Homo sapiens: one gene and its partner. The protein of the gene in region 2 purifies or fractionates together with the protein of the main gene of each other region. This does not show direct contact. Each region holds a gene or a part of one and is shown on either strand. Other genes may lie near its edges.

Region 1 (3,500 bases), on a different chromosome or scaffold from region 2:
CCAAGGAACCTGGAAAAAAGGGCTTCTCCAAAGATATCATCAACCCAGGCCTCAGATGCCACACATGGCCAGGTCTGGTGGCTCACGCCTGTAATCCCAGCACTTTGGGAAGCTGAGGTGGGCAGATCACGAAGTCTGGAGTTCGAGACCAGCCTGGCCAATATGGTGACCCCGTTTCTACTAAAAATACAAAAACTAGCTGGGAATGGTGGCGAGTGCCTATAATCCCAGCTACTCAGGAGGATGAGGCAGGAGAATTGCTTGAATCCCAGAGGCGAAGTTGCAGTGAGCTGAGATCGTGCCATTACACTCCAACCCAGGCAACAGAGTGAGACGCCATCTCAAAAAAAAAAAAAAAAAAAAAAAAAAGAAACCCCCACACATAAAAGAATATTAACTCATAATAAAATTAAATCAGAAAACCATGAGAAAAAGCACAATGAGCAAAAAGGCAATAGAAACAATAGGTAGTCATACCAGCAAAGGCTTCAGTTATTGGAATTATGAGATGTAGAATATAAAATACTATCTTTGAAGAAATAAGAGAGGCGATAGAAAGTACAGTTGACCCTTGAACAACATGGGTTTAAAGTATGTATGCAGGTACACTTACACATGGATTATTGTCCTGCCTTTGCCATCCCTCAGACAGCAAGCCAAACCCCTCCTTTTCTTACTCCTCAGGCTATTCAGTGCAAAGATGACGAGGATAAAGACCTTTATGATGTTCTACTTTTACTTAATAAATAGTAAATATATTTTCTCTTACGATTTTCTTGGTAACTTTTTTTTCTAGTTTATTGTAAAAATACAATATAAAATACATGTAACGTGTTAATTGACTGTTTATTTGTTGGTAAGTCTTCCTGTTAACAGTATTCTATAGTAGTTAAGTTTCAGGGGAGTCAAAATTTAGGCATGTATTTTTTACTGCATGGGGGTTTAGCACGCCTAGCCCCCACATTATTCAAGGGCCACTTGTGTTAGTAAGGAACAAGAAACGATCAAAAATAGGTGCGATGGGCATGATCTCACATATGTGGAACTTTTAAAAGTCTAACTTGTAGAAGAGTAGAATGATGGCTACCAGAGGCTGAGGATTGGAAAGCTGGGGAAAGGAGAGATGTTGATGAAGTGGGGTACGGAGTTTCAGCTGGACAGGAGAAATAGGTTCTCATGATCTGTTACACAGCACAGTGACTATAGTTAATAATTTATATTTTAAATCTCAGTACAAAGAAATAAGTTTTTTGACATGATAGATGTTAATTTGCCTGATTTTTATCATTCCACGATGTATACATGTATTGAAACATCACATACCCCATAAATATATACAATTATTTGTTAATTAAAAATGAAATAAAACATAAGAAAGGATAATGGAATATCATGCTATGTGTGAGAGAGGAAATGGTCAAAAAATGATGGTGAGGGGGTATATAAGGACACAGGAACCAGCTTGAAGAGACTCTGCTGGCCAAATCTGGATTAATTTGAATACCAAGTATAGACCATTGGGAAAAAATAGTTTCTAAGTTCATACTTATAATAATACATAGGTAAATAGGGAAGAAGAGGGAGGGGTCTTCCTCATAGTGGAATGCCAAGTGCTGACTGTTAGAAGTTGGGGAGTAGGGCTGGAGTCGGAAAATAGTGCAGACGACTCTCCCAAACACATAGAACAAAAAAGTTGCCGTATACATATGGCATAACAAATTTAAAATGAAGCAGAAGTAAACTATTGCTTAGAAATACATGCATATGTGATATAACACTAAAGAAAATAATGAGGATAACATATGATAGTGGTTGCTTCAGAAGGCATCTAAATATTGGTAATACTCTCTTTAGTAGTTTTAGGTTTCATGAATGCTCATTTTTAGCTTGTACATAAATATGTATATACTCATATATAAACGTATATTTATATATAAACATGTATATATTGAGACAATGTCTTGCTCTGTTGAGCAGGCTGGCATACAATGGCAAGATCTTAGCTGACTGTAGCCTTGAACTCCTGGGCTCCAGCAATCCTCCCGCCTCAGTCTCCCAAGTAGCTAGGACTACAGGTGTGCACTACCATACTCAGCTAATTTTTATTATTTTTTACAGAGACGGAGTCTTGCTATATTGCCCAGGCTAGTCTCAAATTCCTGGCCTCAAGTAATCCTCCCACTTTGGCTTCCCAAAGTGCTGGGTGGGATTACAGGTGTAAGCCACCACATCCAGCCTGTATAATTTTAAATAGAAAATGTTTCACAGTATAAAACGTAAGCATACAAAGGAATTATGAAGAATTATAGACTATAATTCTTAGTTTTGAATTTGGGCCATGAATCACTGCATTACATGGTCCCTCACATAAATATGGCATAGTTTTGTTTTAGTAAAATATTGGAGATTGGTAACAGACATAGTAAAATATTGGAGATTGTTGGTTTTTAGCAAATAAGAGATGCTGTTTTCAATCTTACCAAAAACACTTTACTGGTTTTTTGGGAAAGAAATTGTAAACAGTAAGTGCATAAAATATTGCTGGAAAAATACACAATATAAAACATTTTGTGGGTTGTCAGGATTTAAAGTCGTTTAATTTTCATTAGCTTACCTTTTATATTTGTAAAGGTTTTATCATTTAATTTTTTTAATATAAAAGTTTGTAACTAAGAGGATTTCAATCACCTACAAGACATTTTGAAAAGTTTAAAAGTATAATCTTCGTAACATGTGCCTCAACATATCTTAATGTTAAAACAATAGGTGATACAGAGCAGGTTTTTAACATTGATCAACACAGAAGCAGATGCTTTGTTGGTAGAGCTCTTTACTCTGATTTTTATACTGTATTTAGTGCCATTGTTAATATTCTCTCCCACTTTATCTTGTATGAGACCCTGAGCTTGTTGATGATAATTTTGCTGTTTATAGTACCTTGATACCTTTCCAGAATTAATCTCTGAGGTGCCATATTCAATTTGTTTACAGATACCTTAGATAGAACTTTAGGAGACAAAAGGCATCTTGTGACTGTAGAAGTGGAAGCAAGGCCAATTGAAACATCATCTGTTATGCCTGTGATTGAGTTTGAGTATGCTGAAAGTATCAATGAAGGCCTTTTGAAGGTCTCCCAAGAGGCCATTGAAAATGGAATTCACAGCGCATGTCTCCAAGGTAAGACACTCAAATGAGAGTAAGCATTAGTATCCCACTCAACCATTTAATCACTCCTTATATTACAGATTATTTCAGTCTTTTTCCTAACTTTGTTAGTGTTTTCTCCCTATTCCTTTGCACTTCTCAGTTACTTCTCACTTCACATCTAGCAGAGTATGATACAATTTTTTTCCCTTGTCTAGGACCATTGCTTGGATCCCCAATTCAGGATGTAGCAATTACTTTACATTCCCTGACAATTCATCCTGGCACCTCCACAACTATGATTTCTGCCTGTGTCTCAAGATGCGTGCAAAAGGTATAGAACTATCCTAATCCTT
Region 2 (3,500 bases):
CTTTTGGTCAAAGCCATTCAACAAGTCTCTAGGAAGTTCCACACTTTCCCACATTTTCCTATCTTCGTCTGAGCCCTCCAAACTGTTCCAACCTCTGCCTGTTATGCAGTTCCAAAGTTGCTTCCATATTTTCAGGTATCTTTTCAGCAGCTCCCCACTCTACTGGTACCAATTTACTGTATTAGTTTTTTTTTTTTTTTTTCGTGCTGCTGATGAAGACATTCCCAAGACTGGGCAATTTACAAAGAAAGAGGTTTAATTGAACTTACAGTTCTACGTGGCTGGGGAAGTCTTACAATAATGATGGAAGGCAAGGAGGAGCAAGTCATGTCTTACATGGATGGCAGCAAGCAAAGAGAGCTTGTGCAGGAAAACTCCCCCTTATAATAACCATCAGATCTTATGAGACTTACTCATTATCATGAGAACTGCAAGGGAAAGACCTGCCCCACATGATTCAATTACCTCCCATTGGATCCCTCCCACAACTTACGGGAATTCAAGATGAGATTTGTGTGGGGACACAGCCAAATCATATCAGTAATATTGTCCTTATACAATGAATTGGAAAGTGCTCCTTCCTCTGCTGTCTTTAAAAAGGGTTTCTGAATAATTGGTATTAATTCTTCTTGAAATGGTTGGTATCATTCAGTGGTAAAGGCATCTGGGCCTCAACTTTGTTTTTCTGGTGAAAACATATACATGTATTTAGAATTAGCCAGCTGGATTCAGTTTAGATGATCCCAATTTTGTTGGCAACATCCAAGACATGGTAATCAGGAGCCAGTCGAACATATGCCTTCTTCTCTCCATCAGGCCTAATCAGGGTGTTGAACCTTGGCCACATAAACATCATAGAGCTTCTTCACAACCTGTTTGATCTGGTGCTTGTTGGTTTTAACATCTACAATGAACACAAGTGTGTTGTTGTCGTCTTCTATCTTCTTCATGGCATACTCAGTGGTCAGTGGAAGCTTGATGATAGCATAGTGGTCAAGCTTGTTTCTCCTGGGGGTGCTCTCCAGAGTCTCAGTATCTTGGGCCACCGGAAGGTGGGTGATGTATGGATATTCTTTTTTTCATGGCAGTGGACACCTTTCTACACTGCCTTCTTGGCCTTCAAAACCTTTGCATCGCTTCAGCTTTAGGAGGGGCAGGAGCTTCCTTCTTTGCTTTCAGTGCCATCTTGTGAAAACGACTTTTCTTTAGGAGTAGTTTTGATAACTAAGTCAAAATCTTTACTTGCTATATGTCTATTCACATTGTCTCTTTCATCTTGATTCAGTTTCAGTAGTTTGTGTCTTTCTAGGAATTTGCCCCTTTCATCCAAGGTACCTAATTTTTTGTTGTACAGGTTTCATAGTATTCTTTTATAATTTTTTTATTTCTATATAATCTGTAGTAATGTGCTCTCTCTCATTTCTGATTCTAATACAGTCATGCCTCAGTTAATGATGGGAACTCATTCTGACAAGTGCATCATTGTGCAAACATCATAGAGTGTACCTCCACAAACCTAGATGATATAGCCTACTGCATCCCTAGGCTATGTGATATAGCCTATTGCTCTTAGATTACAAACCTGTACTAGTAGACAATTGTAACACAATGATAAGTATTTGAGTTCCTAAACATGTGAACATAGAAAAGGCCCAATAAAAATATGGTATAAAAGGTTAAAAAAGATGATGTAGTTGTCTAGGGCACTTACCATGAATGGAGCTTGCAGGACTGGATCTTGTCTGGGTGAGTCAGTGAGTGGTGAGTGAATGTGAAGGCCTGGGACATTCCTGTACACTACTATGGACTTTATAAACACTGTACATTTAGGCTACACCAAATCTGTAAATTTTTTTTTCCTTCCTTCAATATTAACTTCGTGTAACTATTTTACTTTATAAACTTTTTAATTTTTAAAACTTTTTCACTCGTTTTAACACTTAGCTTAAAAAACAAAAACTGTACAGCTGTACAAAAAATGTTCTTTCTTTATATTCGTATTCTATAAACATTTTTGTATTTTTAACTTAAACTTTTTTTTACTTAAAAATTTTTTTGTTAAAAACTAAGATAGAAACACAGACATTGGCCGGGCGCAGTGGCTCACACCTGTAATCCCAGCACTTTGGGAGGCCAAGGCAGGCGGATCACGAGGTCAGGAGATCGAGACCATCCTGGCTAACACAGTGAAACCCTGTCTCTACTAAAAATACAAAAAATTAGCTGGGCATGGTGGCAGGCACCTGTAGTCCCAGCTACTCGGGAGGCTGAGGCTGAGGCAGGATAATCGCTTGAACCTGAGAGGCAGAGGTTGTAGTGAGCTGAGATTGCGCCACTGCACTCCAGCCTGGGTGACGGAGTGTGACTCCTTCTCAAAAAAAAAAAAAAAAAGAAACACAGACATTAACCTAGGTCTACACAAGGACAGGTTCATCAACATCACTGTCTTTCACCTCCACATCTTGTCGCGTTGGAGGATCTTCAGGGGCAGACACACATGGAGCTGTCAACTCCTATGTCCTCTGATAACAATGCCTTCTTCTGGAAAACTGCATGAGGCTGTTTTATAGTTACCTTTTTTATTTGTAAGTAGGAGTACACTCTAAAATAACATTACAATGTATAGTATCAAAAATACATAAATCAGTAAGTCATTTATTATCATTATCAAATATTATATATAGAACTTCATTATATGTGCTATACTTTTAACTGGCAGTGAAGTAGGTTTGTTTACATCAGCATTACCACAAACACCTGAGTAACGCATTGACTTATGACATTACTAAGCGATAGGAATTTTCCTCCTCCATTATAATATTATGGGACCACCGTCACATATGTGGTTCATTGTTGACCGAAACGTCATCATGCAGTGCGTGACTATAATTTGAGTCTTATTTTTTCCCTGTGCTAATTTTTTAACACAATTAGTTGTGCCAATATATCGATCTATTTAAAGAACTAGATTTTGAGTTCATTAATTTACTCTGTTGTTTTTCTGTTCTCCGTCTCATTAATTTCTGCTCTAATCTGTATTATTTTCTTCCTTCTGCTTGCTTTATCTATAGTTTGCTCTTCTTTTTCGAGTGTCTTAGAGTGGATTATTAGGTTATAGATTGAGATATTTCTTCTTCCTTAATAGACATTTAGGAAGGATATTTCTTCTTCCTTAATAGACAATTTCTCTGTAAACTTCAGCTACGTTAGCTGTATCCCATAGGTTTTGGTATGTTGTGTCTTCATTTTCATTCGTCTTATTTTCTGATTTCTCTTTTGATTTCTTTTTAGACCAGTTGGTTATTTAGGAGTGTGCTATTTAATTTTTATATAGCTGTGATGTTCCCCAGTTTCTTCCTGCTATTGATTTCTAATTTTATTCCATTGTGGTAGGAGAGTGTATTTTGTATTATCTCTATCCTTTTAAGTGTATTGAGGTTTATCTTATGGCCAAGCATATGGTTTATTTTGGAGAATGTTCTATGTGCACTTTAAAAGAA

Evidence for each region. Proteins that work in one complex are often made in the same cells at the same time.
Region 1: the proteins of TNFRSF10A (region 2) and GFM2 purify together in Homo sapiens (affinity purification with mass spectrometry; one large-scale study listed by BioGRID and IntAct). This does not show direct contact.

What each region holds. Positions count from the first base shown.
Region 1 is NC_000005.10:74,725,618-74,729,117, reverse strand, and holds part of GFM2 (ribosome-releasing factor 2, mitochondrial), read left to right. Parts: intron 1-2,991; coding exon 2,992-3,177; intron 3,178-3,362; coding exon 3,363-3,478; intron 3,479-3,500.
Region 2 is NC_000008.11:23,204,603-23,208,102, reverse strand, and holds part of TNFRSF10A (tumor necrosis factor receptor superfamily member 10A), read left to right. Parts: intron 1-686; exon of another isoform or gene 687-1,195; intron 1,196-3,500. UniProt on the Homo sapiens protein: Receptor for the cytotoxic ligand TNFSF10/TRAIL. The adapter molecule FADD recruits caspase-8 to the activated receptor.